Regions from separate parts of the Homo sapiens genome. Here region 1 is linked to region 2. The links come from fine-mapping of genetic effects on gene expression. A gene starts in region 2. The other region holds a variant in brackets. All regions are shown on one strand. Distances are between the middles of the regions.

What was found.
Region 1: its variant is fine-mapped to the expression of PRKCQ in whole blood (TOPMed, PIP 0.97).

The regions. Positions count from the first base shown.
Region 1 is chr10:6,481,206-6,497,865 of GRCh38, forward strand. PRKCQ (protein kinase C theta) reads right to left here. Exons shown (of 18, transcript NM_006257.5): 6 at 16,015-16,046; 7 at 15,830-15,915; 8 at 10,478-10,607; 9 at 4,830-4,939; 10 at 3,947-4,064; 11 at 2,235-2,395. LOC107984202 (a long non-coding RNA gene) reads left to right here and starts at 11,264. Exons shown (of 2, transcript XR_001747350.2): 1 at 11,264-11,305; 2 at 11,854-12,171. The variant G/C (reference allele first, on the strand shown) is at 8,029.
Region 2 is chr10:6,572,780-6,584,453 of GRCh38, forward strand. PRKCQ (protein kinase C theta) reads right to left here and starts at 7,497. Exons shown (of 18, transcript NM_006257.5): 1 at 7,432-7,497. PRKCQ-AS1 (PRKCQ antisense RNA 1) reads left to right here and starts at 7,646. Exons shown (of 2, transcript NR_036503.1): 1 at 7,646-8,148; 2 at 10,897-11,674. RefSeq lists silencers at 7,499-7,748, 7,759-7,908 and an enhancer at 10,708-11,002.

The DNA.
Region 1 (16,660 bases), 89 kb before region 2:
AAGGCTTGTAGGTTTAACTTAATGTCTTCCTTATTAACCTTATTCAAATGTGGAAATCCACATGGGAACAAAGAAAGATAAACATTTCATTAACAATTAAAAGTCCTCTTTTAGTAATTGCTTCTTTCAGTAAAACACCCTAAAACCAGCCATAAACTAAGAAGCCAAAAAGACAATTTCCATCTATATAATGTGCTTTCAATTTTTGGTAACAGGTTATAATTGCACATTAATTGCTGCTAAATTACAATGAAGACTGGCTGTAACATTGCCTATTATGCTCAGATTAGCACCAAATGAGCCTACTGTGGTTCATATTATTGTGGAACTGAACAAAAAGAATTCCTGAATATCAGCTACCATGTGCTGGACAGAGTCGATTCTGCTGAAAGGCAAGGCATCAGTGTTTAAATCCAAACCCCAAATGGAGCTCAATATTATTCAGCTGTGGTGACCGCTCAGTTGCATTTTAGTTTGTTTAATATTAAATAAACTGGGTAAGACATCCTGCCAAAGTCTGGTGAGCAGTTGTGGTGTATAATGCTGCCTTTGGCTGCACAGATTCATAGAACAGTCATCTCTGATTAAAATTTTCCTGGGAGTCCCATCCAAGAATGTAAAACAAATAGGAGCCCCGTTAATACATGAGATACCCTTAATATCAAAAATTACCTAAAAGCCTATATTCCATATCATCCCTCCTTAAATCACCAGCTTGAAAATTTTCTGCAGTCACCGGTAGTTGGTTATAATTTCTTAAATTATCTCTTCTTCCTTCTTCTCACCTCCCCTTTTTTTTTTTTTTGCTCCTCCTCTCCCTCTTTCCTTCCTCTCCTTGTCATCTGTGAGTGATGGAGACAACCCCCCACCTGCATGTATGGCAGGAAGAATTTAGAGGAGGGACTTTCTCCACAATTTTTTTCCAGGACTCTCAAGCTACAGTTTTCTTATGGGCTGAATTGTGTCTATACTGAAGTTCCAATCCCCAGGACCTTGGAAAGTGACTGTATTTGGAGACAGGACCTTCAAAGAGGTAATTAAGGTTAGATGAGGTTATTAAGGCAGGTCCTAATCCAATATGACTGGTGTTTTCACAAGAAGAGAAAATTTAAGCAGAGTGTGGTGGCACAACTGTAATCCCAGCTACTAGGGAGCTGAGACAGGAGGATCACTTGGGTTCGGGAGGTCAAGACCAGCCTGGGCAACACAGTGAGACGTCATCTCAAAAAAGGAGAACACTTGGATGCAGACATGCACAGGAGGAAGATGATATGAAGGCATGGAGAGAGGGCGACCATTGCAAAGCATGGAGAGGGGCCTGGGAAGAAACAACCCAGACAACACCTTGATGGTGAACTTCCATCCTCCAGACCTGCGAGAACATGAATTTCTGCTGTTTAAGCCAGCCAGTATGTGAGATTTTGTTATAGCAGCCTGTATTAGTCTGTTATCACACTGCTAATAAAGACATGCCCGAGACTGGATAATTTATAAAGGAAAGAGGTTTAATGGACTCGGTTCCACACAGCTGGGGAGGCCTCGCAATCATGGTGGAAGACAAAGGAAGAGCAAAGGGACGTCTTACGTGGTGGCAGGTGAGAGGGCATGTGTAGGGAAACTCCTCTTTATAAAATCATCAGATCTCATGAGACTTACTCACTATCATGGGAACAGCACAGAAAAACCCATCCCCATGATTCAATCACCTTCCACTGGGTCCCTCCCATGACACCTGGGGATTATTACAATTCAACGTGAGATTTGGGTGGGGACACAGAGCCGAGCCCTATCACACCCCAAGGAAACTTATACAAGCTGGAAGATATTTAATAGAGAGAGAAAAAAATCACATGCAAACTAAAACAACACTCCAGGCTTGAGAATGAAGCAAAAGAAGAGAAAACAAAATGAAACAAACACAAACACCGTGTGAAACAGGAAGTGGCTGAGGCACCTTCCTATTTCTTTGGTGCCCAAAGACATCAAACTCATAGGCGTGTGAGATGTACACTCTCCAAGCAAAGTAGCTTTGGAGACACAGGTTTCCAGAAAGCTGAGGCTACTATGGGCCTAGAGCCCTCGGGGTCCCTATTTATTCAGCGCTCCCTCAGGAAAGCTGTCTCTGACACTCACATGCAATCCTAGTGGCCCTATGAGTTTAATTTCTTTGACCAGGAACTTGGCTCATCAGTTCCTGGAGTTGGGCCATAGCATTCTCCCGTGCATTAGCTTACCTTGCCAAAACTTCCTTTCCCCAACATTTTGTGCAAGATAAAATCCTCAATTTTTAGTTTAATCTGCAGAGATGGTCTTTCTTTGTTCAGTTCAGGTTCTGGAAGATGGCACATTTTATCCACCTCATCCAACGGAGACTCCCAGGAAATGCCCTGAGGCTCTGAAAATGCAAGCTGGTGGTTAAAAATGAACATGGAGTAATGGAGGTCATTCTAGTTACTGAGAGCACATGCTTTCTCTTCTACTTCCCATGCTGAGGCTCCATCATAGTAATTGGGGGTGTTTAGAGGGTTTCCTACAGTTCAGGCAGCTTTAATACCTTTCCATCTGTCTGTGAGGGCAGCACCCCCTGTCTGTGAGCCTGGCATTTGGATTTTGGAGTGTGGACTATGTCTCTTTCTTCAATAGACTGGGAAATAGTTCAACTTAAGAAACAAATTCCAATCAGTAAAAGACCATATATGCAAAATACACAAGCACTGTTAATAATGCCACATCAAGGACATCTAGGGATTTTAACCAAATTTTAGGAAAAAAATGATTTTCAATTGTTTGCATGGCTCACAAACACAGTGGCATCAATTTCTACAATTTACAGCGTGAGAGAGACAGGAAATGAAATCTAGCAGATTTTTAAAGATCTGAACTGCATCATTCATCCCAGAATTCAAGTCAAGATGCTGCCTACGTTGGCCGGGTATGGTGGCTCACACATGTAATCTGACAACTTCGGGAGGCCGAGGTGGGCGGATTGCCTGAGCTCAGGCATTTGAGGCCAGCCTGGGCGACATGGTGAAGCCCCATCTCTACTAAAATACAAAGAATTCGCTGGGTGCGGTTGTGTGCGCAAGTAGTCCCAGGTACTCGGGAAGCTGAGGCAGGAGAATCCCTTGAACCCACAGGGCAGAGGTTACAGTGAGCTGAGATTGTGCCACTGCATTGTAGCCTGGGCCACAGAGCAAGACTCTGTCTTCAAAAAAGAAAAAAAAAAGATGCTGCCTATGTTGATCATTGCTAAGACATAGTCTCCTTGACTGCCTGGCAACCCCTCCTAAATGTAACCCAAACCTTTCATTTACATTTTTAAGTTGATTTGAAGTCAGAGAAAACATAAGAGAAATTTTTAGGAATTTCCCCCTGCCTACAATAGTCTCTATATTTTTAAATCCCTAGGTTTATCTTTCATACTCTTCCAAGGACACTAAGTATTTTAGAATGTATGCTGAAACGACTCAGGTCTCAGAAACATGGGTCATATCCACTCATGAACTGCTTTCAAACAGTAGGCTGGAAAAACTGCCATAATGTCATGAAAGTGGCTTTGAGTCCTTCTCTTTCCTACCCTTAAATTTAAGTCTCAAAGGTGCAGAGTAAGAATGTCTTCTGTGGCCTTCCCACCATCAAATTTTAAGACAGATTTATTTCTGTGAAACCATTTGACACTGACAGAATGTAACATGCTGAAACTCTAAGAAAACATTTGTGGTTGTTCCCTCCAGACCTATCCCATTTTCTAACCCCCACCTCCTGCCTTTTACAAAGGTAAAAGGTTTTAGTTTCTTTTCTAAGAAGTGGGAGCCTCTTAGTTGGTAGCTGGAGGTGGATCACCTATCAGACCAGGTAAGCTGATAACTTAAATCCAAGGGCATTAGGTTAGGGTTAATTGAGATTAATGACTGACAGTGATTAGACTGCTGATCAGGACAGCTACCTCTTTTTCCCGGTGTCGGTAAACATGGCGGCCTTGCTTCATTTTTGATGGAGCATGGGAGACCAATTTCAACCGGACCTTCTCTGAAGATCTGTTCAGTATCTCTTAAGCAGCGAGCCTGGATGACAAACAGAGAGTCAGACCACCCACCCACCCACCATTGATGGAACAGCTCAGCCTGCTAACGATGGGGACAAAGGCCATTTAAAATGTTTAAATGCATAGGGTCAACAAAGATCTCCTTATCCTCAACGTTCTTTTGGAACCCCATATTCTGGGAGAGTCTATCTACTGTATTTTATGCATTAGCCGAACACGTTTGCCTCCTTCACACTTTTCTGGGGCTGACAGGATTCTCTCATGCTGTCTACATCATTCCATCACAAATAAGGACAGGTAGTTAATGGATGGGAAAACAGCTGATACAGGCAATGCCAAGTCTTAAAGAGGGTTTATCCTTGGATCTAGGAATTCAGCTAATGCCAAAACAGTAAACAGCAGGCCAAATTTGCCCTGGACTCGGTGTTCCATGAGGATGATGCTAGCACATAAGTGTTTTCCCCCAGGCTATTCTATAACCCGAATATATTCACATAAAGCTGTCAATGAATCTTCAATAACTTTAATGAATTTATTTGTTTCTGCAATGCTCATGCCATGAAGAATTTAAGATTTTATAAAGATCTGCATAATACAAATGCATTAAATAAATATCTCAAAGATAGGGGGTGTGGGCATGGATATGAAAGCCAAGGGCAAGGCCGGTGCTCAGAAATACATCCCGGCATTTCCCATAGGGCTGCCACAGGTGAAGCAGCAGAAGTGCATGGACATCCTTGCTGAGCGGCCATGGCGGGAACGTGTCCACGGCACATGCTCCTACCTGTTGAGTGCTCTCAATCATGGCCAGCGCTTCAGCCATTAGCTTCTGGTTTATGCCACAAAGGTTGGCCACCTTTGTCTGGCATCTATGATGCACATTCATGCCACATGCTGGAAGGAAGAAGGCAGATAGTGAGCAAGAGTGGAAGAACCCCCTGGTGCTAAACAACTCTCTCTGGAGGTAAGACAGAGCCTTGCGGATAGGGAGGAAAGCCTAAAGTGCCACGGCTGGGAGGAAGTTGACCCTGGCTCTCCCTGGTAGTGATCCTCGTGCTGGAAGGGAAGTGAGGTAGGAGGTGGGACTCAACTCTGGAGGTGGGGTTCAGACGCCAGACCAAATTGAAGACTAGCTAAAACAGGGACAGGGCAGAAGCAGCTTTCCAGAAGATGCCCACCTGCGTGCCATGTCAGTTTAGTGTTGCCATGGCAACACCCAGACGTTACCACCCTTTTTCCAGGAACTTAATTTGCATGTAGTTAAAAGTGGTATAAATAGGATTGCAGCACTGCCCTGAGCTGCTACTCTCTGCCTCTGGGGTAGCCCTGCTCTGCAGGAGCAGTCATGGAGCTGTAACACCAACAGAACTGTAATACCGTTGGCCAATGAAGCTGTTTTCTTCTACCAACAGCCGACCCTTGAATTCTTCCTGGGCGAAGCCAAGAACTCTCCTGGGCTAAGCCCCACTTTGGGGCTCACCTGCCCTGCATCAGAAGAATATTCCTGCCCACTCCAGTCTGGGTCCAAAACATCCCCTTTCCCACCTGGGCCATGAAGAGCTTCCCCCAGCCTTTAGGTTGAAGCCCAGGAGGCAGCCTCAGCCTGCAGATGGATATCAGACGGTGGAGCCGGAGTGTATATGTGGGAAGGGATGGAGTAGGAGGAGGCTAGCAATGCCAGGAGAGGTCACGGCAGAACACACCTAGCAAGACTGGACCAGGCATGAGGACCTCAGCTTTGAAAAAAAAATCACAAACTCTACACACGGTGTGGAAACATAAAGCCACAGGCTTCACCAGTGTGGGCTTAGATGAGGAGGCCAACAGCAACCGGGTGTTTGAGCACATTCCCCAGTTTCCAGGCCCCTGTACCCATGCCTCCTGAAAACCTCGTGTGATTATGGGAAGGGTAGAGGGCCCCAAGGATTACTAGATGAGAATGTTAACTAAGTGGATCTCACAGTCATAAAGAAAGTGATATTTCTTGCACGCATGAACTGATGGCGTAAATTGACATCTACAACCTGTTATGAAAGGTAACTCGAAGAAAAAGAACCAAAGTTTTCTGTCATCTTTATAAGTCACATAAGATGTTAAAGAAAAAGAAAGAGGAGAGGGAAATACTCGAGCACCTGTCAGGTGGGTGGAGAACGGGGTGCTGGTGGCAGCTTGCACAGCGTGGACACTGTGTGACCTTGGGCAAGTCATGAACGCTCTGGGGGCTCCCGATTAAGGATCTCCAGCACTGGACTCATGATCTATACAGGATTCTAGCTTGGGGATCCTACAATTCAGGGTGAGTATTCTGATTCATGAATCTTGAAAACAGTAGCATAGAATCTAACTTCCATTGCCAGTGACCAAGAGATCCCTCTTGGACTGGAGAGCGTGTGCCCATGTGACTGTGTAAAGACAATTATTAGTTTTAGAAATTCAAATTTTGCTAATGAAACATCACCATTAAAGGCCAGGCGTGGTGGCTCACACCTGTAATCCCAGCACTTTGGGAGGCCGAGGCGGGCAGATCACCTGAGGTCAGGAGTTTGAGAGCAGCCTGGCCAACATGGTGAAACCTCATCTCTACTAAAAATAATAACAATAAAAATTAGCCAGGTGTGGTGGTGCACATCTGTAATCCCAGCTACTCAGGAGGCTGAGGCAGAAGAATCACTTCAACTTGGGAGGCGGAGGTTGCAGTGAGCTGAGATCGTGCCACTGTACTCCAGCCTGGGAGACAGAGCGAGACTGTGTCTCAAAAAAAAAAAAAAAAAGAAACATCACCATTAAAATACAGAAAAATCAGATATAAAGATTTCCAAACTCCAGCTGACAGAGTCTGTGAGTAGAGAGTGTTGTAATAGAAGCAGGCACCAGGTGCTATGACATCATGCAGTCTTAATCTTATCTGCTGATTTGCACATGTGTGTGCAAAGAAGCTTAGCACAATGACTGGCATCGAGCAGGCGCTCAACAAATACAACTTCCTTTTCATCTTCATCATTTATTGCATAGATGTAGATATTAAAATATTTAGGTGAAATTTGGGCAACCCTCACCTGTAGTTTTCACTGGTCCACTCTTCTTCAAATAGCTCAATAATAAAATAAAGCAGAATTTTCTATGTAAATAACTATTACTTTTTTTTTTTTTTTTGACATGGAGTCTCGCTGTGTCACCCAGGCTGGAGTGCAGTGGCACGATTTTGGCTCACTGCAACCTCGGCCTCCCGGATTCAAGAGATTCTCCTGCCTCAGCCTCCTGAGTAGCTGGGATTACAGGCGCCCATCACCACACCCAGCTAATTTTTGTTTTTAGTAGAGACAGGGTTTCGCCATGTTGGCCAGGCTGGTCTCCAACTTCTGACCTCAAGTGATCTGCCCACCTCGGTCTCCTAAAGTGCTGAGATTACAGGTGTGAGCCACCGCGCCCGGTCAACTATTAACCATTACTAGACCGAGTATATAGGCATAGATATAGCCAGAAAAATTCACCTGAAGCAAAATCTTTTCTGCATATTTAAAATCTTTGTTGTTGTGTTGTTGTTCTTGAGACAGGGTCTTGCTCTGTTGCCCAGGCTGGAGTGCAGTGGTGCAATCATAGCTCACTGCAGCCTCAAACCCCTGGGTTCAAGCCATCCTCTTGCCTCAGCCTCTTGTGTAGCTGAGACCACAGGCGTGCACACCACTACACCCGACTAATTTTTTTATTTTTCGTAGAGATGGGGGTCTCACTTTGTTGCCCAGGCTGGTCTCAAACTCCTGGGCTCAAGCCATCCTTCCGCATTGCCCTCCCAAAGTGCTGGGATTACAGGTCTGTTACCGTGCCCGGCCTAAAATCTTTACTATAGAAAGGATTTTTTTTTTTCATGATTGTGCTCCAAATTCCACATTGTCGGCAAAACTCGCATAACTCACATTCGCCCTATTTAGAAGGTGTCAGGTTTCAACTTCGGTAGCCCCAGCTCCATTTTCTTATGCATCACC[G/C]TGACACCAAGTGAGGTTGTCAGCTAGGATTGAACATAGAGGGATGGAGTTTTACTTTGCTCCTTAAAACTGTAGCCACATCTAGGCTTCTCTGTGACTTGCATGGCCGCGAAGAAAGGCCACCACCATCTCCACGAGAAGGTCCTAAGTCTTTGTTACTAACCTATCAGGCCGTAACTCAGTTTCTTGGAGGGCAAAGAGTCCCTTTGGATGACTATTTTCTTGGGAATTATTGTGGGGAGAAAGAGAAGGCAGGGTAAAAGGCTAAGGAGGCCCTACTTAAGACGACGGCCTGCAAGGAGGCAGGATGAAAGGGAGGCAGAGAGGGAGGGAAGAGAGCTGGAGAAGAGGGCGAGAAGAGTCGAGAAAGGAGGACGCGGGGGCATGCGGGGTGAGCGGAGCAGGCGGGGTGAGCACAGTGGAGGGGCAGGGACCCGGGAGTGTCAGAAGCAAGAATGGAAAACAAACCAGGGCAGGGGAGGGAGAGGAGAGGGGACAAAAGAAAAAGGGGAGGGGAGCACTTGAAATGTAGGTGGTAGGAGAGAGCGGGGAACAGAATGGAGCGGAAAGGAAAGAGTATTCAAGGAAAGAAATGAAACGAAGCAGGCAGAAGAGCCATGAAATAACGCCCAGGAACCCCTGGGAAGTTCTAAGCTGTGCCGCGGCGCTGCTGGGACCAGCTCTTCTTGCAAGTGGATTCTCGGGCTCCCAGGACAGAGAACCCGACCTGAGACCATCACAGGAGAACCAAGAGGCGAGAATTTCTCCTGTTTCTGTGGATACCGTCAGGATGCAGGATGCCGGGACACTACGTTTTGTCTCTGACCTCCTAATGAACTCTTAATACCCTGCCTATCCATGTCTTCTTGAACAGGGGTGTAGAGAAAAGCGTGTCAGTGTCCTTTGGGGCCAGGAACGGATTCTTGAGGCTAATGTTGGCCTCCTGTGATGTCTGCTTTAGGTAATGATTTGAAAACCTAACCCCTCCTGCCTCCACTGAGAGGTCGCTCTGGGTTCCACCAGACATGTGAACAGGATTGGGATGAAGAAGGGGAGAATGCGGAAGATGCTGTGCCGCCTTCCATCACGTACCTCATTGCTCAAAAGAGAGGACATACATTAGTCAGTAGCACTGATCAAAATAGGGCTGCCAAGAAAAAATAAAGTGGCTTATATATTTAATACTTCATCATAAGAAAAGGTCTGTGCTCACCAGGCATGGTGACTCACTCCTGTAATCCTAGCACTTTTGGAGGCTGAGGAGACAAGATCGCTTGAACCCAGGAGTTTGAGACCAGCCTGGGCAACATAGCAAGACCATACCTCTAAAAAAAAAAAAAAACAAAGAAAAACAAAAAAAACAAAAACAGGCATGGTAGCACATGCCCATGGTCCCAGCTACTTGAGAGGCTGAGGTGGGAGGATTGCTTGAGTCCAAGAAGTCAAGTCTGCAGTGAGCTGTGATCGAGCCACTGCACACCAGTCTCCAGTCTGGGCAACAAAGTGAGACCCTGTCTCAGAAAAAAAGTAAAAGAAGAAGAAAAAAATCAGAAGCTGTCTGTATGCAACAGGTGGTTCTCCTTTTGTGGCTCTATTCTCTGGGCTCTGCCCACGTCTCTCCCCAACCAGAAAGCAGAGTGCCTTGTCAGTTCTTGAGGGTTTTTTTTTTTCTTCCCTAGTCCTTAATCCTAGTGTAACAGCATCTCAGCTTCTAAACGTTATCGCCTTAGCAACTTGGAGTTGTACAGCAAGAAAGCCTTGCCTTGTTTCCTTTTTTGATGGTAGGTCTGAGAAACTCCATCAATAATGAATGGCAGGTTAGGCTCTGCTGCGATCCTGGCCTTGGAGGAAAGACCAGAAAACAGGCAATGACGGTCACAACCGGGCCAGCCTCTTACTGGGCACTTGGAGTTCACAGCAATGGTTTAGGGATGGATGCTCAAGCTAATGTTACAGAATTTCTGTGCAGGACCATGTGTCAGCCAAATGAATGTGCTGGGCTTGCTCCTTGATGAGATGACAGAAAGAATCTTACTGGCTGGTGCAAAGGAGAAGGGTTAGGGTACCACACAGCTAGACCTGTTGGGATTAGGAAGGGGCAGCCCAGAGCCCACTGAGGAAACTAGTAGTAGAAAGACCAGTGAGAGGAGAAACACTGTCTTCATTTCCCCCAGGGCTATGGTACGGCAGAAGGTGATGGAGCTAGGAGTTTGACCTTGAACCTGAACTGTTGTGCTCTTTTCTGGGATGTGTGGGTGGGGGTGTTGCAGGGTGCAAGGAAAGGAACATAGTGGCTTATTGCCCCAGAAGACCATACTTATGATCATGACTTGTCTGGGCTGGGTGTGGAAGTGGTACCCCCTACATCCTCCCTCCAGTTCCCCAGAAAGCCTTGCTCCATCCCCTAGGGGGTCCACGTCGGGCCATGCTCATCCCCCACTGGACTCACCATCACACTTGAGTCCTTGCCGTGCCAGTCCCCACAGCAGGGTCCCACAGTGTTCACAGAAGGTCGGGCTCTTGTAATTGTAGACTTTAAATCTGTGTGGCATGTCAATTTTGAATCTCTCCTTGTGGAACTGAAAGAAAGGCAGAAGGTGAAATCTGTGTATTCCTGGGGCCCCGACTTTGGATGTTCTTGCAGATACCTTAGCATAACTAACAGAGATCATAATGAAAACACTGGCATTGTGTGCATTTTAAACCATCATTGTCACTTGTCAAGCCCTACAGTCATGCCTGAAGAAGGCAGGCAGCCTCAGCAACTGTACGTGACGGGGCATGCTTGCCTTCTGCATGTAGCAAGAACCTTGCAGACAGCTGAAATCTGAGGCATTCACACAGACAGGCTAAAAGCTCAGGAAGACTGCATGAGGGTTATTTTAAAAAGTGCTAAGGAAACAGTGCTCCCATTTAAATAGATGAAGATTCCCTTCCTGTTTTACTATAAATATTTCCTTTTCTCTTTCAGTCCAGAACTAGTGCTTTTAACCTTTGGAAGATGTAAAAAAAAAAAAAAAAAATGCCTTCTTTAAAGGAAACATTTCTATGGGTTTATCAGTATTACTGCCTAATGTGAGAAGCATTTTCACACCTATTATTCATGAACTGAGGTGGCAAGAGGAGGGAGCAGTTCCTGCCAGGTGCGGTTAACAAATATGTCACACGCATCATCTATTACATAGGTGATATCTCACGTAATCCTCAGAATACCCCTTTTGAAGTCGCTTCTATTAGTATCCTCCTTTGACAGACGAGGAAATGAAGCACAGAGAAGGTAAGAAACTTGCCCAGGACACGCAGCTCTAGAGCTGGGATATCTATAAGCTTGGCAGTCAGAATCAGAGCCCAGCCATTCTCTTTTCTGTCTCAAAATAAATGTGAAGGCTTATCGGGGTAGGGAGAGGGGAGTGGGAGAGGGATGCTAGTGATCGACATGGAATTTTTTTAAAAAACAGTTTTCCAGAGTTTAAATCAAACTTATTGCAGGAACAACAAAACACTTGGATAGTTGGATTCCTGGTAAGAATGTGAATATTCTTGTGCAGGATAAAATGCTTTATTTTCTAAAGGTTTATAATCTCTGCAGAAGTTTCTAATTCAACAGTTCCTTTGGGAAGGTGCATAGCAAAGATGCCTTATTCATCAGCACAGCAATAGATCTAACGTTCCCGCCAGGGGTACTGGTCAGCGTTGGTTCTTTAGAAAGCCTGTGTAGAATCGATTAAAAATTGCTCAGCACTTACTACAGCCATTTTCAACCAAGAAAAAAATAATTTTCGGGACTCACTTATATTCCACAGTTTAAATATGGACAATTAATAGGTCAAGGTCCAGGCTGGAAGGGGACCACTTCGAATCTTGAATGCAGGGGCAAACAGCTCAAGACACCATGGCTGATGAAGACGCTATGTACACGCTTTCCAGTATGAAAACCAATGAGCTACATGGGGCTGGCGAACACTTGAAAGGTGGTGAGTTAGAGTTGAGATGTGCTGGACGTGTAAAATAATACATCCTGGAGTTTGAAGACTTTTGTATAAAATTACTTAAGATATCTGAATTTTTCAAATGTCGATTTTTTGTTGAAATGATATTTGAACAGATTGGATTAAATAAAATGTATTATTAAAATTAATTTCACCCATTGCTTTTTCCTTTATTTAATGTGGGCTACTTGGAAATGTAAAATTACACATGTAGCCCTCATTCTATTTATTTCTATCGGACAATACTGCTCCAGGGGTAGAGGAACAAAAGAATCCCAAAGATGATGTCCCCTTGAGTGAACAAGAAATCAAAATATCCTGGGAGAAGATAATATCACAGACATTTATTTATGTAGCTGACAGTTTCTCAAGACTTTGTACCAGGAACTTTGTTAGTCATTGAGGTTAACAGTGATTCAGAGATTTGCGTTTTTTTCTAGAAAAGCTGAAGGCATCAAGTAAAGGAAGAAGTCTGGGAGGTGAAAATTTGATCTAAGCAAGCAAAAACATGGTCTGAGAGATTGTGATCTTAATTTTAGTACCAGCTCTGCCACGTACAGGTGATCAAACATGAACAAACTACTTTAACCTCTTTGAGTCTTAGCAGAATCACCGGTTAGCACAAGTTTATCTCCTTCTGCTTCTAAATGTTAGGAGAAATTCTACTCTGGAAAAACCCAGCCACTTCGCCTTCTCTGAACCTGCCCCTTTGTTGGAGAAAATCATACTCCTGAGCAGGCTGACTCCGTCAAATTCAAATGGACTTTCAGCTCTGCTCCACAGTCTGACTGCTTTTCACGAGTCACCTTGCTTTCTCTAAGATAATTATCTCATAGATCTTCCTTTTTCCTCGAAGGCACTTGTTGCTTTCTCTTTTCCTTCCTCCAGCCATCAAACTCCATGGGGGACACATGCAGTCTAAGGGAAGCGCCTTTGTGTGCCCATCACCAAAGCTCCACACCCATCCCCATCAGCAACTGTCTTGCCCTACTCCCTTCCGGTTAAACTGTGGAAGCTCCAGGGACCAGTCTCCACCAGAGCTCAGGCCCTCTTCGCTTCCTGCCAACAGACTTGACTGTTTTGTTTATCTGTCTCTCCAGCTTTATCCATCTCTCCCTGGCCACGGGAGCACTTGCCATCCTTGGGGTCTCATTTCCCAGCCACTGTTCTCTGTCCATCATCTCCTTCATGGTTCACCTTCTTCATAATATCAACTTACAGGTTGTTTTCATGTCATCACCTCAGTCACCCTTCTGCAGGTCAATCAGACTAATGCCTCCAAGATGCCCCTGACATTTCTCTGATTTAAGCCTGTGAAGATCTGCACGTGGGCCTCAATTTCAACACCTCAACTGCACAGAACACAACCCACCTCTTCTTCTTCTGGTTTCTGTAACTTCATAGACTCTGGGTGTAGGAGGAGCGGTCTCTGAGCCCAGTTTCTCAATGTCTATCTCTGTCCTTTATCTTCTACCTAACATCTCATTTTAGATTCCTTTGTAGTCAGTCCTGAACTTTCTCTATTTCCTCACTAGGCAATCTCTTCAGCAACTTTAAAATCTACCTATATGATGGTCACTGTCAAATTTATAGGGTTGGGCCCTTGTCCCAGAGGAATTCCAAGCTCATGTGAAATTGTCTATTTGATGCTTCAACTTGGATGTCCACCTCTCCGACTCAACATGTCCAAACTGGAAAAATTCATCTCTCCTTCCAGTCTTCTTCACTCCGTCGTGGCTCTGTTATCTACCACACTGCTCGGCCTCGGGCAGAAGCCAGAACCTGCGGCATCATCCTTATATCCACCTCTTTCATCTAATCTTTTGGCAAATCCAGTCATTTCTAACATCAAAATCACCTGAGAACCTGCCCCTTTGCTCCACCTCTGCTGACGTCTCACTGGTATAAACCACCAACCTCCCCGCTTGGAGGATTCCTTCCATCTCCTCTGGTTTCACTTTCACATCTCAACGCACTATTTCTACTACAGCATCCCAAAGTGGGCTTTCTACTACAAGTTGCACAAAATACAATCATTTTTCCAGGCTCCAAAGAAACCCCGCATGACCCAGGCCTTGGTGCCTTCCCCAGTGTGGGCTTCCAGTCTGCGCAGCCCTTGCAGCTGTCACCACACTGGTCCCATTTCAGTTCCTGGAACACATTGGACTCTCCCTCAGCAGGGTCTTCCAGCCTGTAAGGAGCTTCCTTCCTCCTGCTCTTCACCTAACCAGCTCTGTCACTCTTCAGCTGTCAGTTTCAATGTTCCCTCCGTTGGGGAGATTCCCGGACCACAGAGTCTCAGTAGGCCACATGCTTACTCTCCACCTTGCACCTTGTTCACTATCTTTGTAGCACTTAATATAAATCGAAGCCATACATAGCTGTTTATTATCTGTTTCTCCAACTTCGCAGGACCACGTCTGTTTTGTGTTATGCTGTCATTGGAAGAATGCGGTATCTTCCATGAATCAGATACCCAGTGAGGATTTGTGGAATGAAAAAGGAAACGGTGGGAGAAGGAAGTCAAAAGATTTCATAATGAGTGACAGAGTGGAGTAATAGACATTGGAGACTACAGATGGCAGGATGGGAGGGAGGGAGGATTGAAAATTACCTATTGGGTGTAATATTCACTCTTCGGATGGTGGGTTCACTAGAAGCCCAGACTTCCCCACCAGGTAATATAGGCATAGAAGAAATCTGTACTTGTAGGCCAGGTGTGGTGGCTCATGCCTATAATCCCAGCACTTTGGAAGGCCAAGACAGGTGAATCACCTGAGGTCAGGAGTTTGAGACCAGCCTGGCCAACATGGTGAAACCGCATCTCTACTAAAAATACGAAAATTAGCCAGGCGTGGTGGCATATGCCCGTAATCCCAGCTACTCAGGAGGCTGAGGCAGGAGAATCTCTTGATCCTGGAAGGTGGAAGTTGCAGTGAACCAAGATGACACCACTGCACTCCAGCCTGGGTAAACAGAGTAAGATTCCATCTCAAAAAAAAAAAAAAAAAAAAAAAAATTGAAAAAAGAAATCTGCACTTGTACCTCCTAAATACATATAAATTTTTAAAAATTTAAAATTCATAATGATACACTGCCCATGTGCTAGCCCAGTTTCCCCCCTCCATTAGGTAAAATGTAATTTGTCTTCCGATTATACCTCAACGTTTACTCTAAAAGAAATATTTGCTTCTCAACATAAAATTATGCCTCTGTTATTATCTCTAACCTTGTAAATGCCATGTTGCTGTATCTTATCATCATTTGCCTTTATTTACTCTTTTACTGTCACTTCTAGCTGGGGGTGCCACAAGGATTATTCTCATATAATTAATCTAAACTATGCTTTCTGGCCACTTTCTATGCCATTTTTCTGGAAAAGTAGAGCAATGAAAATTCTTCCTGTATATAATTTGTGTATATTTAGGAGGTACAAGTGCAGATTTCTTTTTTTTTTTTCTTTTCTTTTTGAGATGGAGTCTCACTCTGTTGCCCAGACTGGAGTGCGGTGGCATGGTCCTGGTTCACTGCAACCTCCGCCTCCCGAATTCAAGAGATTCTCCTGCCTCAACCTCCTGAGTAGCTGGGATTACAGGCTTATGCCACCAGGCCTGGCTAATTTCTAATTCATCCTCTGGTTTGGGTAATTCAGTAAGAATCATTATTGAAGAGGAAAGAGTTTTGGGGAGATGGATGTTCACTGATAAATGGGAGGATGCAAGTTCTGGCATTATTCTGAAGAATTCGTGGGCTGTAACATTTAACGTTCTGATAAAAATCACTGCACGTCAAAGAGGAGTGTAAATACTCACCATGGTTTCTCGGCTATTGATAGCTGATCCTGTGCACTTTGCTATAACTTTATCAATACACTTCTTGTGAATTGCTGCATTGCATTCTGAAAAGAAGAAAAAAATCACAGCTTAAGATTTTCATAGCCTAAGGAATAACTAAATAAAAAGAATGATGGTAATGCAACCAAAACCCTCTTACTTACGTCGGCACTGGTAGCCCTGTTTGTTCAGGCCCCTGTAATAAAGCACACGCTGATTTATTTCAATGTTGGCATCAACATCAGCACCAACAGCATTTAAGAGATGGATGAGATCTCATAACCCCCTAAGATCACAGAGCAGTTTCTGATCAGCAGCCCTGTTGTATCATTTGCCAAGAGTATTAACAGAGTGTTTTTCATTTGAAGCTGCGTTTTAAAAAGTTTGATAATTAAATAAATGAGAACTGGCTGATTTATCATCCTTGTATTTTCCAAACATATAGAGATTAAAATGCATGAATGAAAATGCATGCATCACAGACTCTTCGTAGCACGTTTCCCTGTGCTAGATTTAAAAATTCATGGCCTCGCTGAGCTCACTACAGACGAACAAAGACATCTGTAACATTTTATTTCCTCTTTCTGAGCATCTGAGAATATTTGCAACCAACAAAGTCTCACATGCAGGACCGATTCCTGAGTGACATCCATGATTAGAGAGAAAGGAGGTTCAAGTGATTAGACGAAAGCAGGCTGATGAAAACCCGCCAAGTCGATCTGGCATGTGGATACCCTGGTTACACAGGAGCTGTGCTTTAACAGTTTCTGCAGTAGCCTAAAGGGAAGAGTATCCCTTAATAGGCTAGGA
Region 2 (11,674 bases):
TGGTTCTAGATCTTTGAGGAATTGCCACACCATCTTCCACAATGGTTGGACTAATTTACATTCCCACCACCAAGAGTGTAAAAGCGTTCCTATTTCTCTGCAACTTTGCCAGCACCTGTTGTTTCTTGATTTTTTAATAATCACCATTCTGACTTGCAGGAGATGGTAACTGATTGTGGTTTTGATTTGCATTTCTCTAATGATCAGTGATATTGAGGGTTTTTTTTCCATGTTTGTTGGCTGCATGAATGTCTTCTTTTAGGTACGAACAGATTTAATGTGTCCCAAACCAAATGATACAGTTTCATGAAATAATTACCCTTCCTACATGAAATGCATCTTAATATTTTCTGTTTTATTCTATTTCATGCTTGTTATCACCCCCAAAATTAATGTCATTGCCCACTAGTAGACTGTGTCTTGGAGTTTGAAAAACTGTGTAGAAGGCCTGCTTTTGTATAGCTAAAACATATCAGTGAAAACAGAACGGAAAATGTTGAAGCTTATGCCCTAAAAATGCTGAACACAGCTGAGATGAACTTCTCTCAAAACGACAAGAACAACAACATTTCTGCTTACTTTCAGGACAGACTTGGCTCACCTCTGAACCCCTGTCCTTTTGGCTAATTCCCATACATCTTCCATCCCCACCCGCGATACCTTGTCCTCTGAAAGCCTTTCCTGAACCTCCGAATCAGGACTTGGTTCCCTTCTACATGTTCTCAAAGCACCCAAGCAATCATCTACATATAGTGCTTAGCACAGCAAACGGCCGATAGTGACAAGTCAATACATGTTAGAATATATTGCCATAGTTTGTTTACTTTTTGATTTTTCCAATAGATTGTACGCTTATTAGGAATTCTTGCCCACAGGGAAAAAATTTCAGGATGACAAGGATTCTGCTTCTGCAGATATTTAAACCACCAGATAGAAATTTTTTTCTTTTAACACTTAGCCGCAGTCCTTTAGGTGTTACAAGGTTAAAAAAAGAAAAACCCAAAAGATGTGTTCTTGATATCAGCTAACACTCCAGTTAAAGGCGAAAAGAGCTAGGCCAGGTGTGGTGGCTCATGTCTTTAATCTCAGCACTCTGGGAGGCCAAGGCGGGCAGATCACTTGAGCCCAGGAGTTAGAGACTAGCCTGGGCAACATGACAAAACACCATCTCTACAAAGTGCACAAACTAGCCAGGCCATGGTGGCATGCAACTGTAGTCCCAGCTACTCAGGAGGCTGAGGCCGGAGGATCCCTTGAGCCTCAGAGGCGGAGGCTGCTGTGAGCTGAGATCGTGCCACTGCACTCCAGCCTGGGCGACAGAGCAAGACCCCGTAAAAAAAAATGCAAAGAGCCAAAGAGCAGACCCCTGGCTGTCTTGTTGTCTTTCCCTCCTAGTTGTTCATGAATTAAGTGCCCAGTGAGGAGACAGCTGCCAACGTATAGGTGAGTTTGCAGTGCAAGCCGAGTGCTGTGAGTTCATGGGCAGGTAAAACTCTCTGAAACGCTGGAGAGAACCTGAATGGCACTTGTATACATTGGTAGATAAAGCATTTAAAGGGTTCCTCCTGTTCTTAGAAAAGGATCAAACTCCTTCGTATGACTTAACGCAGGACAACTCTACGGGACAGTCTGCCCAGGACAATCTGGGTTTGTACCTGTTACCCAAGCTTAGTGATTAATAACGTGCTCTTTCACTCTATAAACAGTCCCCATCTGGAGGATAACGTATATGGTTCACCTGCTTACAGGTCCTATGTGATCTGGCACAGCTGACTCCTCCAGCTCCACCCAGCAATAGCCCACACACTGGCACATGCTCCTTTCTCGCAGCATCACTGCTATCAGAGATCACAATTTTCTTCACTTTGCAAATGGAGAGAATGACACTCCAAGAAGTTCACTGGTTAAGGTCATATGGCAAATTAGGATGGGGAGCAGAGGTTTAAATGGAAGCTGTGATGCTTACTCTGCTCATTTCCACTCATCTGCAAGGCTTAGACTGGACTGCACTGGGATTCCAGACTCACATGCTGCAGGGACATTCTACAAACACTGTTCCTACCTCCCAGAACCCCCATCTGGCTCACTGCCACTTCCCCTTCAGGTCTCAGTTGAGCCGTCACTGACAGCTCTGCGACACCCCAAATCTAGCTGTGCACATAATACCAAGTGTGTCCCCTACTGAAACACACAATCATTCTGCACATATTTGTTCACAACTTGGTATGTGTCAGGCCCTGTTAGAGTGGCTGGGGACACATGTAGGGACAAAATGCCAGCCCTCATGGAGTTTCATGCTAGAGGAAAAAAGAGACAGAAAGGAAACTAGCAAATATAAAACAGAGTTGCATGACATTATAAACTGATACAAAATAGTACAAATATCTCATGAATTCATCACAATTCATTATAATTTCCTATTTGCCTGACCACATCTCCCTGTGGGTTTTGCAGCACGGTGTGTGATCTGAGGCTTGCAACAAAGGCCTGGTGAATTCAATAGCAGTTTCCCTTTCCATTCTCTCCATTGTCCTGGGAACTTGTCCTGCTCTGATAACATACAAAAGATAATTATATCTGTAACTAATCTTCTAAAAAGCATCTGTCCCACACATTCAGGGTTATTAACACTGATGCCATGTTCACTTTATTCTCAACAACTACTCATTTCTGAATCATAAGGTTCCTCATGGAGGTGGAGATAACCCTACCTACCGGGACATTCTGTTTATGTTTTAGGGACTGTCCTTTCCATGGCTTCCCTAGTCCCTCAGGTGCTGTGTGAGTTGTATTTCCTCCATTAATTCTACACTAGAAAAAGGTGTATATGCTCAAGCTGGGATAGGAAATAAACAATGAACTCAGGAGTAGCATCAGCCCAGAGATCCCTGCCATTGGGCATTCAATGATTGGGTAAAAAGTTAACTATCAGCACCTTACACCAATTAGAAAGGCTACTATAAAGAAGATTTTTAAAAAAGCCCAGGTGCGGTGGCTCACGCCTGTAATCTCAGCACTTTGGGAGGCCAAGGTGGGTGGATCATGAGGTCAAGAGATCGAGACCATCTTGGCCAACATGGTGAAACCCCATCTCTACTAAAAATACAAAAGTTAGCTGGGTGTGGCAGCGCGTGCCTATAGTCCCAGCTACTCAGGAGGCTGAGGCAGGAGAATTGCTTGAACCTGGGAGGTAGAGGTTGCAGTGAGCTGAGATCATGCCACTGCACTCCAGCCTGGCGACACAGCGAGACTCCATCTCAAAAAACACAAAACAAAAGACAGCGTTGCTGAGAATGTGGAATAATTGGGACCCTTTCTACCACTGGTGGGAATGTAAAACGGTCCAGCCACTGTGGAAAACAATATGGCAGTTCCTCAAAAAATTAAACATAGAATTACCCTACGACCCCACAATTCTACTGCTGGGTACATACCCCAAAGAATTGAAAGCAGGACCTCAAACAGATATCTGCGTGTTCCTCTTCACGGCAGCATTATTCACAATAATCAAAAGATAGAAGCAACCATCAACAGATACAAGGATAAGCAAAATGTGGTATATCCATAAATGGAATAGTATTCAGACTTAAAAAGGAAGGAAGTCCTGTCCAATGCTGTCACATGGATACAGCTTGAGAACACTATGCTAAGTGAAATAAGACAGTTACAAAAGGATGGATACTGTATTCTGCTTCTGTGAGGTCCCTAGAGCAGTCAGAATCTTAGAGACAGGAAGTAGAAGGGTGGCTGCCAGGGGCTGAGAGGAAAGACGGATGAGGAACGAATGTTCCACGAGGACAGAGTTTCAGTTTTAGGAGATGAGAAGAATCCTGTGGATGGATGATGGCAATGGTTGCAAAACAATGTGAATATACTTAATGTCACTGAACTGTACGCTAGAAAATAGTTAAGAAGTTAAATTTTAAGTTATGTGTATTTTAACCACAATAAAAAAGTTAACTGGTAGGTCACCTGGGACTGCGGTTTAAAGCAAATGCTTGATGGTTAGACTAATCTGGATGGTCCAACTAACCTGACTCTACCACTGACTGGTTATAAGACCTGGACAAGGGGCTCTACCCCTTGAGCCTCAGTTTCCTCATCTGAAAAACTGGAATAATAATAATATCTAATTTATAAAGGCTTTTGGAGGTTAAATGAAGCAGTAATGCCTCTTACATATAAATAAAATTCTGAGTATGATATACAGCACATAAATTCTAAATAATAAAGACTCAAAACCATATTTCATTGGTTTTGTTGATGCTGATTATTATTATTATAATTAATACTATTAGCTTAATTCAAAAGCTAACATCAACCTACAGCAACCTGCAGAAAGATGTCCTGCCAAATACTTGCTAATTTAATCCAGGAGCAAAAATCTATGATTCTGGGCTTGAGTGAGCTTTCCTAATTTTAAAACTCTGATGCTCATTTTGTCCCCAAGAATGTGTTTAGATGACAGAGCAATCAGAATTTGACATGTATAAATGCTTGGCATGTTAAAATAATGAAAGATATTTTCACCATTGTAAGGAAACAGCTTTTAATCCATCTCTCTGGTTCAACATCACATTTTTCTATAGTTTCTCATGACTTCTTCCTTAACAATTGGAATAGGTATGAAAAAGCTGAGCTGAACACATAGCTGCTTAGAAATGAGCTGCTTAAAGTGTTAAAACAACAGAAACAGCAAGCATGAGTTTAATGCTATGTATGCCGTCACAATACTAATTTCTCTATTTTAAATTACAGATTACACACACACATACACACACACACGGAATCACGTCTATATTGCTGGGATTTTCATTATATAACAATATATCATTTTAAATGATTTGAGGCAAATTATTGAAAAAAATTAAAGACTGAACTCCATAAAAAGGAAATCACCTGAAATCAAATATAACCTTGTTAACAAACCAGCACATTAGCAACATTTTTAGGGGCAACAACATAATCAGCAACTCTAAGACATCAATCAAATGCATTAAAAACAGGAAGTACTAACTCTAATTCCTAATTTCCAGAAAGGCAAATATACCATAATTAAATAACACGTTATAAGGAGATTTGTCTGTGTAGGTCTACTTCTGAATCCCCGAAGTTACATACTTGTACCACAAGCCCATACTCTTGAAAGAAAATTCTGGACCCAGTCCACATGGAATTTTGGTTAAAACATCTAATTCATTGCAGAGAAGAATTTAGTCTTTTCCACGGAAGAGACAGCATGTGTTAGAATGAGAATACTTTATAGAAATGACCAGTGACAAGCCGGCTATGTAAGGGGGCTTCTGATGCCTGGCGTTAACAAGAGACAGAGAGTATTATTGTTGAAAGGGATCTTTGAGATTACAGAAGGAGCTGAGGTGTGAATAATCGAACACCATCCCCTTGTTGCCTGAAGGAGAAGTGAGACAGCAAAACAAATCAAATTTCCAGGAGCTGCACCGTGTATGGTGAGCGAAGACGCAATGAGGACATGTCTGTAGGAGAACAGAGGTAGAAGTTAGCTCCTCAAGTAACAGTTGCCATCCCGAGGCACCACAGCACAAGACAGTAGCGGAAATGAACATGACAACGCGGATGGTGGGTGACAAGAGTCTTGCCTGGATATTGACATTTTTAAAGTGTAGAAGAAAATCGCAGGTCACTGAAACAAAGGCTGATGGTGCCCAGCAGGTTACTCTTGAAATCAGAAACAGAAGTTCATGAGAGGCAAGAAGACAGAAACAACAACTGAAAAACTTAGAGTGGATCGCTAACTTGCAGGAGCTGTGCAGCTTTGGCTTTGCAGGTTTTAGAAGCTCTCCCTACGCCACGTCTTTAAATATATGTATGTTCAATCAGCAGGAGGAAGGGACTAACAAGAGCCTTCTGCGGTAAGCACCTGCATCAAACAATGGCACTGATCTCAGAGGGATTTTAAACAGCTGTGCATAAACTTCAAAAGTAATTTGCAACCATATTAGTAAATGTCACTCTTCTTCCCGCTAGACACAGCACTTTTAAAAGAGATTAAGCATCCGCAGTAAGCCTGCCATTTTACAAGGGTTACCAAAGATAAGTTAGGGAAAATATGAAGATGATGATTCACAAGGTCGGGGTGTGGGGTGGGGTGGGGGACCCAGGACCTTAGGAATAGGGCTTGTCTATCACACAGCCTCGGGCAAGAAGGGCCCAGTGGGGACCATGGCTTCTAGGGAGCAAACCAAGGGAAAAGAGCAACGGAGTGGACCCTCCAGGCTTCTTGCCTCTCTCACGGAGCCTCACGAATCCCAGTGGTTTAGAATTTTCTTTGGCAAAAGAAAAGGTCAAAGAGGCCGGAGTTGACAGAAAGCATGGGCGGACTTCTCAGATCTTGTAGGTGGTTCTTAAAAGAATTCAGCAGGCTTGAGGTGTGCTCTCAAAGGGCAACTGGAACGTCAAGGACTTGGACACCAGGCACAGATGGTTCATTTCCCATGGACAGGAAGAGGGCACGGAGTGCTCCCTCTTCCCTCCACCTTCTCCAGCCTAGTCCCCCTCAGCCTGTGCCACTCCTGAATCATCTTTTATAGCACCACGTCCAGCCCGCACAGGGGCAGGACAGCCCAGGGAACAAGGCAGTCCTGTGGCGCTCTCCTTGCAGAAATGACCGGAGTCTCCCAATCCAGCCAGCCCGTGGACCTCTCTTCATGCCCACGGGGGAGTGCACACGCCTGTAGCATTCAACAGTCACTCTCCCATTGATAACGGTGGCTCTCGAAAATCCAATACCACAAAGATACTTTATTGCACAAACTTTGCTTGGTTAACCTGGCCCTCAAAGCTGGGGAATAACCTCACTTGAGGCTACAGGAATGAGCACGCAGATTTTTCTTTTTTTTTTTTTTTTGGTATCTTTCAAAGACCTGCCTCCCCCTCCCCCAGGCCCTTGACCAGAAACTTGGCTTGTTTAGAAGCCTGAGCAATGGCACCCCCGTCCGTGCTCCAATACATTCCCAGAAAAGGGGTTATGCTCCCCTGTGGACAGGATACCATCTCCAGAAAACATGTTTCCTCACGCATTTTTTTTTTTTTTTTTTACCAAGAATACAAAAACTTTCCACCTTCTTCCCTCCCCGCAGGCCCCCTTTCGTTCAGGTGAGAAGGAAAAGGGAGAAGAAAGGAGGAAGCGCCCCCAGGCCGGCGGCCCCCACCCGGCTAAGGTCGCCAGCATCCCGCATCCCGTGCGACCTGCGTCCCAGAAACCCAGCGGGGAAATTCTTCCCGGTGCGCTCTTGCGCCCGCTTGGTTCCATTTCCTACTCCGCCTGCTCACCCGGCAGCCCTCACCCCTTCCCGGAGGCTCTCCGAGGGGCCCGGGTAGCCCTTCTCGCCACGGGTCTCGGCCCCTCCAGCCCGCTCCCTCCCGGCGGCGGCGCGGGGCGCGGGGCCCTACCTGGAGCGAGCACGGCGCCGCTGCTGCCCGGTGGCGCTGGGACTGCGCGGGGACTGCGCGGGGACTGCGCGGGGACTGGCGGGGCTGGCGGGGCTGGCGGGGCTGGCGGGGCTGGCGGGCCCGGCGCACTGCGGGTGCGCCTAGAAGGCGGTGCCCGCCAGGGGGCGCTCGCCAGCCTCCCCGCCAGCCCGGCCTCCCGGGACCCGGCACCTCTAGCCAGGGACGCGCGCTCGGTCCCCCGCCGTGCGCCCCCGGTCCCGCGCCCAGGCTCCCGCCCCTGGCCTCCTTACCAGCCACTTGTCGCCCAGCTGCGAACTGGAGCGGGAGGCGGCGGCCGGAGGGCCCAGGACAGCCCCGGGAGGGCGGCGAGGCGGAGCAGGAGCGCCCCGGCTCCGGCCACATTCTCAGAGTCAGGAAAAGGGGCGAGAGGCCACATGTCTCCCTCTCGCCCAACTGAAAACGAAACGGCGCTCCAGCAGATTGGGTGGAAAGAGCTGGGTCTCTTTTCTCTGTTTTTCACGCTAGAAAGGGCTTGTAAACATTGTTCCTTTTAAAATGACCTACCCCAGGCATTTGTTTGGGCACACTTCTGTCCTGGGGTCATCGTTCCTAGGTGGCTTCGGACCTGGGACTTTTCCTGTATCTGCACATTGTCGTTTTATACACAATTGCCAAGGTGGGACTGCTTTCAACTTTACTGTGCTTGAAGCTGCAAAGGTAATGTTGCCGCCGTGCGTGTCATTTTAGGACTTTTTATGCCTTGCGGGTAATACTAATGATGGTCACAGGGAGGATAAACGGGGTGGTTTCTTTTTCTATACTCCATGTAACTAATTTCTCATTCAGGTTAGAAAATTATATGTCTGGTTACTAATATTCTTACTGAATGGTTTCCTTGCAATGATGACACCAAATAATTAAAACGTACTTGATTAAGACTTTTGTTGCTGTAGTGTACTAAGATCAGATTAATCTGAGAAGTAAAATAGTAATTTTTTGTCCTTTTTTCTTTTCTTGTTTTGAGAGAGACATTAAAAACGATTAAAACAAAACAAAACAGGCCAGGTGCGGTGGCTCATGCCTGTAATGCCAGCACTTTGGGAGGCTGAGGCGGGTGGATCGCTTGAGGCTGGGAGTTTGAGACCAGCCTGGCCAACATGGCAAAATCGTGTCTCTCCTAAAAATACAAAAATTAGCTGGGTGTTGTGGCACGTGCCAGTAATCCCAGCTACTCAGAAGGCTGAGGCAGGAGAATCGTTTGAACCTGGGAGGAGGAGGTTGCAGTGAGCTGAGATCTCACCACTGCACTGCAGTCTGGGTGACAGCAAAACTCTGCCTCAAAAAAAAAAAAGGTTTAACAAAAGCCAAAAGTTGAATTAGCAGCCTTCTGATCATGGGAATGTAGGATGTCAACTAAAAAGAACCTCAGAGGTTGGGAAGGCAGATGAAAAACTGAGGCCCCGAAGTGTTTCAAGACTTGATTAAATCACTCAGGTCTGCACTAGGAAGCGAGTTATGATGATGCCCCTAATCTATATGAACCCAAATAAAGCCAAAACACACACACCTTTTAAGGATAAAACTATATTCCATTAAAATTAGCCCCGCATTTGTCAATATCTAACAGCATTGGACTGACCCTCAGGCCAGAGGCTGTAGCTCTTGGAAGATCCTAGCCAGGAGGTTTGAGAGTGGCCAGTACCTCGGAAGTGCTGGCTCACTCTGACATCATCAGAACCTGGCATACAGTAGGCGCTCATTGGGTATTTGCTATGGAAATTAGGCAGGAAAGTGCGTCTGTGTCTGGAAACAAAGAGGCAAAGCTTAAGCAGTGATCCCCATGCAGATTCTTTCTGCAAACTACAAAACAGAAGCTTCCCTAGTTCAGACTGCCATCCATCTGGCTCTTTCTCCAATTGTTTTTCAGCGGATCCTGTTACAGTGCAAAGAAGAAATGGCAAACGGATAACAGCTACTGTGCCTAGAAGATGGTAGATTCCTCACGCTCCATATCTGGGTTTCTCATTGACAATTAGGCACTGAAAGGAAGCTCATATGTCCTGTTAATTTAATCAGTAGTTAGTGGCTTTAGAAAAAGTTTCATATATACACCAGGTATGATAAGGACTTTTTTTTTTCTTTTTGAGACAGAGTCTTGCTGTGTTGCCCAGGATGGAGTGCAGCGGCGTGATCATAGCTCACTGCAGTTTTGATCCCCCAGGACTCAAGTTATCCTCTCACCTCAGCCTCCCAAATAGCTGGGACTACAGGCACACATCACCATGACCAAGCTAATATTTAAAAAGATTTTTTTGTAGAGACGGGGTCTCACTATGTTGCCCAGGCTGGTTTAAAACTCCTGGGCTCAAGTGATGCTCCTACCTCAGCTTCCCAAAATGCTGGGATTATCGGGGTGAGCCACCATGCCCAGCCTGTGATGACTTTAGACGCACTACTCATATAATATTCATAATCTGATGTGATATGTATCATCATCATTATCATCTCTCTTTAACAGAAGAGACTAACAAGGCTTAGAAAGGTTATGTACCTCGCTCAAGATCCCACAATTACTAAAGTACCAGAACCAAGATTCAAACCCAGGTCAGGCTGGAGCCACCATCTCAAGAGCTGCTGAATAATTAATTCTCCTTTTTTTTTTTTTTTTTTGAGATGGAGTCTTGTTCTGTCACCCAGGCTGGAGTGCAGTGGCACAATCTTGGCTCACTGCAACCTCTGCCTTCTGGATTCAAGTGATTCTTCCTGCCTCAGCCTCCTGAGTAGCTGGGATTACAGGCATGTGCCTGCCACCATGCTCAGTTAATTTTTGTATTGTTAGTAGAGACGGGTTTCACCATGTTGGCCAGGGTGGTCTCGAACTCCTGACATCAGGTGATCCGCCCACCTCAGCCTCCGAAAGTGCTGGGATTACAGGCATAAGCCACTGCGCCCAGCCAATTCTCCATTCTTACATCGTACACTCAGTTTTCTCTTTCTTTCTCTTTTGGACAACTGATCTTTGAGGACTCTTGGCTACTCAATTGTCCTATAATCGTATAGTCCTACAACAGGAAACCCGTTAACCTGAAGATCAGATCTTTTAAAACAACATCCATCATATATCTACAAAATTGGGATTTTTTTATCGTAAAATTTCATCTAAAACAAAAAATTCACATCTGTTCTTGGTATCCATTAGGTGTAGTGGACACCTCTAGATATTCTTGATGCCAGCATCCTGTAGACCCGCCATCTCCTTTCCCAGGCCATGGGGTGTTTCTGTTTTCTATTAGACACTGTCTCTTAGTTATATAAACGTGGCTGCTCTCAGAAGTTCTCCACACCTTTGTTTCCTGGAAGAGGAAATGGCATTTCCTGGAGGGGATGACACGTGGGCGGTGAGGTTCCACTCACTACGTTAAACACACCCTAACTTTCAGCTGTGTACTTCTTTTCCTCTTTCAGGTTCTGCCCTGATGTTTCCTGGAATAATGCTGAGGACTGCCTTTCGGGTAGCCGCCCTATTCAGTTCACTTCATCTCGGAAATACCTGACCCCTGCCTTGGATCCAGCGGCCCTCCTGAGAGCTGAGGAAGGAGGAAATCCTATGTGTCTGCTCCCGGAGCTGCCACAACCCATCTTCCCACAACTCGGAACTTGGAAAAAGGAACCCAGGACACGACTTTGCTTTTCTTTTGGACCTAGTTGGTGATTATACTCTGTCTCCCATGGAGACCACGTCTTGCATCCTTCCTTCTATATGGGATTTAGGATAGAAATTAAAAAGAAAACATATTATTTTGAGTCTTGATTTGGAGAAAGGTAGTATTCAGGAGGAAGTAGGCTATGATACACATAGAAAATTTGAGGACAGTGTTACTTAACAAGGACATTTCTGTCTCTGCAGAAGTCACAGCTTGGAGGAAACCAGTTTGCACTATTTGATGAGGAATTTGGCCACCAAACCACTGATACTTTCCCAAAGGTTTGGCAGAAATTGTTTTTTGAGTGGCTCACCAGAGTACCCAGAAGAATCAGTATGGAATTAGAGGACAGTGGCCTACCCTAAATAAAGACATGAGTGATGTATAAAGTCTAGTGTCAATTTATTCAGAAAATATCAAAATTATTCTGGGAGCTATGGGTCAAAGTTGATAGGCACAAACAAACAAAAACGAAAGGTATTTTAAATTCACAGCTTGGATAAGTAAAAGGGAGATGTTGTCATTTCTCTTCTTCAATC